Linked DNA regions of Homo sapiens: region 2 is linked to region 1. Evidence: fine-mapped expression QTL. A gene starts in region 1. The other region holds a variant in brackets. All regions are shown on one strand. Distances are between the middles of the regions.

Region 1 (2,901 bases):
ATTTCTTGTCAAATTAGTAAAGAAGGGATTTTTCAAACTTCAATTTTGGAAAAGGAGATAACTTTTTCAAACTGTAATCTCTGCCAAGATGCTATGCAAAGGATTTACAAAGGAATCTATAGAACTCAATTCTGCTTCTTAAATACGCAGAGAGGAGTTAAAGATTTCAAATCTTTTAAAAACATAGTGATTCAGCCACGTTCTGTTTATCTGTAAATCTAATAGTGTATGTAGTTGAACTCTTAAAATTCTGGAATGTTTATTTTATTTTATTCATTGTCTTGAGAGGAGCAAAAGGAAGCGAGAGGGCATAGCTTTGAAGAACTGGCAATTTGGCAACTTCTCTCCCCTTGCCACCCCTCCCCCACTATCTTAGCTATTTGATCTGATTAAACAGCTTTGGAATGGTAGCCAGACTTCTGTATGCTAACGAGGCCCCTACCCTATTCGCGATTTAATGCGATTTCATCCCCCCAGAGCTTCCCGGTGCCCAGTGGAAGCCTGACTTCGCAGAAGTCTCCCAATTTTGTCAGGGGCTCGCCAGTGAAGAGTTCACACTGACTTGAAGCAGACACAGACTCATTGGACGCCTCGGGTCACATCGGATTATTCATTAGCAAATTCTTTCCACCTTCTATCTAAGTAGTGAAAGGTGACGCCAGAATCGCGTGTGCCACTCCTCTAAAGGGACCCTGATAACACCCAGTCCAGGCTCTACAACTTCTGCCTAGTCACTTGCTTCCTAGCAGTAGAAAGTTTCCAAAGGTTGCCTTAAGTCCTCCCTACCCCTAAGCCTAAAGATCAGAGCTCCAGGTCCCACCACCTAGCAGGAATCTGAGCATTTTGGAAGTTTCTGGTGTAGAGGGAAGAACCGAAGGGGTGGTAGCGGGGAACCGCGCAGAGTAACCCCCCTGCACTACGTAAGGAAAGCCCTGGCTGCAGGAGGGAGCGAGCCTGACATTGAGACGTTCCAGGGGGAGGGTGAGTTGCTGTCCTGGAGTCGCCAGGAACAGCAGCGACAGTTCCAAGAAGCGAGAGAGGAAGGTGGCCGAGATAAAGAGAACACTTCGGGAATAAGAATATTAAAAAGCGGCAGGACCCAGAGCATTAGCAAACGGCAGAGCACATGTAGTAATTTGTTAACACGAAACGGCAGCCTTCCAACTTTTGCACTGAAACACGGGGATTTACCCTTTGGGGGATTAAAAATGTTGATACGCAAAGCCAAAGGCTAATGAATAGGATTCAGTGGCTTGCTGGCAATATTTAAATATTTCTGTCCGGGAGCGCAAACTCTTCTGCAGTTATTTAGAAAAGTAGGGAGTTAAACCAAACTATAATACTCTCCCGTGCGTCTCCACTTTCCCCAGCCCGAAAAGGAGCTACCAGCGCTGTACTGCCCCTTTAAGACCTGCTGGCTCTCGGGCTCTACAAAAGGGAGTGACCTCTGGGCTTTGACAGCTCTCCTAATAACTACCACGGCGCAGGCCCCGCCCACCTAGCTACCAGCAGCGCCGATTGGCCGGCGGGCCGGTATCCCGCGCTGTGATTGGCCCGTCGCTTCCCCTGAGCGAACCTTTAGAACTCTGAGACAATATTCTGTTACATTGTAGCAAAATGGCGACTGTCATTCACAACCCCCTGAAAGCGTAAGTAAGACTAAAAAATGTACATATTCCGCGTGGTTTCAATATGAAAAAAAAGGCGCCTTCTGCGTGGCGAGCGCTGCCAGAGCATTGCGCTTGCAGGCGCCTCCAGCCGCGGCGGGGCTTCTCTCTTCTTTCAGCTCTTACTTCTTCATCTTCTTTTTTTCCCCCAACGCGCAGAAATGTCAGGAGATGCAATTAACAAGAAGAAAATTGTTACATTTGTGTTCTGCTAAATTGCAGAGAGAGCCAGATATAGGGGTTGCAGGCGGAGAAGCCCGGCGCTCGAGCGCTCTACAGCAGGAGGGTCGCGGGAGCTCGGGGACGGCGCGGTCCCCGGAGTCCCCCGCCTCGCGGGCAGGGAGCGCGGCTTCGGGGGCTGCTGGGCGGGGGGCGAGCGTCGGGCAGTGGCCGCCTCGGTGTACTTGGCCGAGCCCCGCGCCCCCGAGCCCGCGGCCCCCGCCCCGCCGCTGGGTCCGCTGGGTCCAGCGGACGGACCGCGGAGGCTCCGGAGTTTGCAGGGCGCTCTTCGCCTTCCGATCGCTCGCGGGGAGTTTGTGCAAACCTTCCGGAGTTGGAGCACCGCGGGGGAAGCAGCGGGTCCCGGGCGTGCTGGGGCCCAGGTGGTCGCCCCGGGCTTTCCCCGGCAGCCCCCGGATCTCGGAGGCGCTCCGGGCGATCGAGCGTGTGTCTGCTCGTGTATTTGCGAGCGAGCTGGCTTTAGTGGATTAACGACTCGGGTTAACTTGGGGTGGATTTGGAGGCAGGGAAGCCGCAGGTCTTATGAATGGTGTTCTCGCCACCTCTGGGTGAGGCGCTGAGGCAGGCGGAGAGGCGGTTTTGGGGCTCCTGGCCCGAGGGGGCAGCGTCTGCTCCCGGCCGGGCGAGGGGCAGGTGCCTCTGGCCGCCTCGGGGAGACTTTGAGCGCTTGCCCAGATCCTGGACAGAGTGGGGCGGGCCGGGCGAGGACTCGCGGGGGCCAGCCCCGGGTCCAACAGCCAATTTCTGCCTGCCTGCCTTCCTCCTCCTTTTCATCCTTCCTTCCTTCCTTCCTTCCTTCCTTCCTTCCTTCCTTCCTTCCTTCCTTCCTTCCTTCCTTCCTTCCTTCCTTCCTTCCAGTCAGTGGAACTGTTAAGCCGCCAAGTCCGCTCGCGATCGCGGAGCCAGGGGTGGCCTCGGAAAACTAGTGTCGCTCTGAAAGGGGTGCTATTGGGTGATGTCGGCAGAGGGTGGCTCCCTCCGTATCCGAGGTGGG
Region 2 (2,901 bases), 86 kb after region 1:
GTACAGGCACAGTGCTAAGTGCTTTCCATCCTTTTTCTCATGTATTTCTCTAAATAACCCCAAGAAGCAGACGCTTTTATATCCCCATTTCTCAGATGGGCAGTTGAGGGTTTGAAAGGAGATGTAAACTGCCCAGAGTCATTCAGCTAGTGAGGGGACTCAAGCACTTGCTTCTAGAACCTCTAGTTCCACCCTCTCATCCACAGGGCGCTCAAGGGGTGGTCAGTGGCCGTTTGCATTGGTATTCCCTGGAGAGCTAAGTGAAAAGTTGGGTTCTTGGGTCTCCTCCTGATCTATGGAATCATAAGAGATTGGGGTGGGACCCAGGAACCAGCTCCCAGTGACAAGCAGGGCTGAGAATCACTGCCTGTGGAGCCCAGTGCCACCTTCCCTTTCTCTTCCACCAGGCGCCGAGGACCTGCCATCAGCCACATGCAGGGTTCTGAAAGGAAGGGCAGGTGTGACCAGGCCTCCCCATGCACTTCTTTCCTCCCTGGTGTAGTGGCCTCAGGAGTGCTGGTGGATGGGGAGCCATCATGCCTGCACATAAGTTGGGAGAGGGTGGCTTGTGTGGCCGTGCTGACCTGCCGACTTCTCACTCTTTCTGGTAACCCCCATGCCCTTCACCGGTGCCATGTTCCCCAAGGTCCTAGATGATGGAGGGACCAGGCCTGGTGTTGGCAGGCAGTGGCCAGGGCCAGGCAGCCCAAGCCCTGTGTGACGATGATGTGGGAGTGTCTGTCTGTGTTGCTGTAATGGAATACCAGGAACTGGATCATTTATAAAGAAAAGAGATTTATTTAGCTTATGGTTCTGCAGGCTGAGAAGTTCAAGGGCATGGCCCTGTCCTCTGGCGAGGGCTTTCCTTCTGCATCACAACATGGCAGGGAAGGTCAAAGGGAAAGTAGACACGTGTGAAGATGGGGAAACCCAAGGGGGCCCTGGTGTTTTAACAACCAACTCTCCAGGGAACTAATTCATTCCTGTGAGAACAAATCCAGTCTTATGAGAGTATGAATATTAGAGCTACAAGGCACTGCCAAGTTAATCTTGTCTAGAGGGCCAGATGAGCAAACAGAGGCTCAGAGAGGTAAAATCACTTGCCTGGGTTCGCACAGCAGGTAGGTAGTATGGTTGGAGCTAGAACCCAAATTAGTAGGATTGCTCCTAGACTCCTAAGAATGCCAAAATCCAAACCATAGCTTCTGAAAACAGATGTCCTTACATGCCCGGAGACCTTTGGCTGGTTTCCTGGTAGAAGAAGCTGTTCAGACCCCTCTCTCTTTCC[G/A]GTTCCCTGCTGCTTTGTGCTACTGGAGGGAAGCAACAAGCTGGTTTTTCTCCTCCCAGAATAGGAGGCATCCCTGAAAATGTTGGCCTGGATTTCCAGGCTGACTTTCTAAACACTACCTCATCCTAAGAGTAAATGGCGAACTATTTTCACACACTATTAAAATTTTAATTTGGAAGACTCCTGTCCTTGGAATGCAAAGTTCGCCAGGCATTTTACGTCCTGCAAGCTGAGGTAGTTACTAGAACCTTCTTGCGGGTCCTGCTTGTAAGTCCCACTTGTAGTATTACACCAAGGACTGGTGGGATTTGGACAGCAAAGTGACTCTTACTATTTGAGTTCGAAATGTCCTGCTTGTTTTAAAATGTTCACTCAGTTAAGGTTTCTTCTTCTTCCCTGTCCCTGCTCCCACTCCTTCAGAGCAGGATGTTTGGATGCTGTAGTGGGAGCTGGTGGTGAAAAATTAAAGTTATTAATGTGACCATCCATCAGATGGTCCTACATTTCACCTCGGTTCTGCTGGTCTCCAGCCCTGACCCTTACTCCATTTCTCTCTTCCTGCTTCCAGACCTCCAGTCCATCTTTGATCCTTCCCTTTCCTAGTTCTCAGTCCATCCCTGACCTCTACCCCATTCCTAACTCCCACCTTATCCTTACCCCATCTCTGAGCTTATCTTTTCCCATCCATCAGGTCAGGCTGGGGGTGACCCTCAGGGAGGGAGGGAGGGCATTTGTTTCTCACATTACTTGTTGTTGTTGTTGTTGTTGTTTTAGAGACAGGTTCTTGCTCTGTCGCCCAGGCTGGAATGCAGTGGCGTGATCATAACTCACTGCAGCCTCCAACTCCAGGGCTCAAGTGATCTTCCTGCCTCAGCCTCCTGAGTAGCTAGGACTATGTATGTGCCACCAAGCCTGGCTAATTTTTAAATTTGTTGTAGAGATGGGGTCTTCCTATGTTGACCAGGCTGGTCTTGGTCAACAAAGCAAAACCCTGTCTCTTGGCGGTACCTTGTAGCTCTAATATTCATACTCTTGTAAGACTGGATTTGTTCTGGCAGGAATGGATTAGTTCACTGGAGAGTTGGTTGTTAAAAACTGGCCTCAAGAGATCCTCCTATCATCCTCTAGCCTTGGCCTCCCCAAGTTCTGGGATTACAGGCGTGAGCCAACTGTACCCAGCTTACCTGGTATTTTTTTAAAAACTGAAAGTTTAGTGGTTTGTTTTTTAGGTGTTGTCAAAGGGCCCTCTGTCAAAACTAGCCGAGTCAAAGGGGCAGTATCAGAGTTATGCTGGAGTCAGTATCATCACAGGCCTTTAACCTGTCAATAATAGTAATAATAATAATAATGTATTTATTGAGCCTCTGCCACATATTAAACAGTGCTAGGCACATTTCCTAGTGTTAATTCATCAAATCTTCACAATAATCCTAAGAAATAGGTGCTTCAATTCTCATTTTATTGATGGGAAAACAGAAACAAATATTTTAAGGAGTTTGCCCAAGGGCATAAGTAAGACATTACAGAATTACTAAGCGACACAAGCTTATTTAGTTTGTGTCCTGAATAGGTGAAATGTTTGCTTCAAGGTCCCTAGATATCTACCCTGTGGG

Alleles and levels. Positions count from the first base shown, and alleles are read on the strand shown. Sizes are in standard deviations (SD) of each study's normalised expression.
As copies of A replace G in region 2, the expression in aorta of the gene that starts at base 1,605 in region 1 goes up (moderate effect, 0.46 SD a copy in GTEx).

Evidence for each region. PIP is the estimated chance that this variant, and not a neighbour inherited with it, causes the effect.
Region 2: its variant is fine-mapped to the expression of DPF3 in aorta (GTEx, PIP 0.96).

Annotation. Positions count from the first base shown.
Region 1 is chr14:72,892,805-72,895,705 of GRCh38, reverse strand. DPF3 (double PHD fingers 3) reads left to right here and starts at 1,605. Exons shown (of 11, transcript NM_001280542.3): 1 at 1,605-1,649. The coding sequence starts at 1,618. RefSeq lists an enhancer at 1,351-1,645.
Region 2 is chr14:72,807,125-72,810,025 of GRCh38, reverse strand. All of the region lies in intron 1 of DPF3 (double PHD fingers 3), which reads left to right. Among named protein-coding and RNA genes, the nearest start is that of DPF3, 86 kb to the left of the region's middle. RefSeq lists an enhancer at 1-212. The variant G/A (reference allele first, on the strand shown) is at 1,289.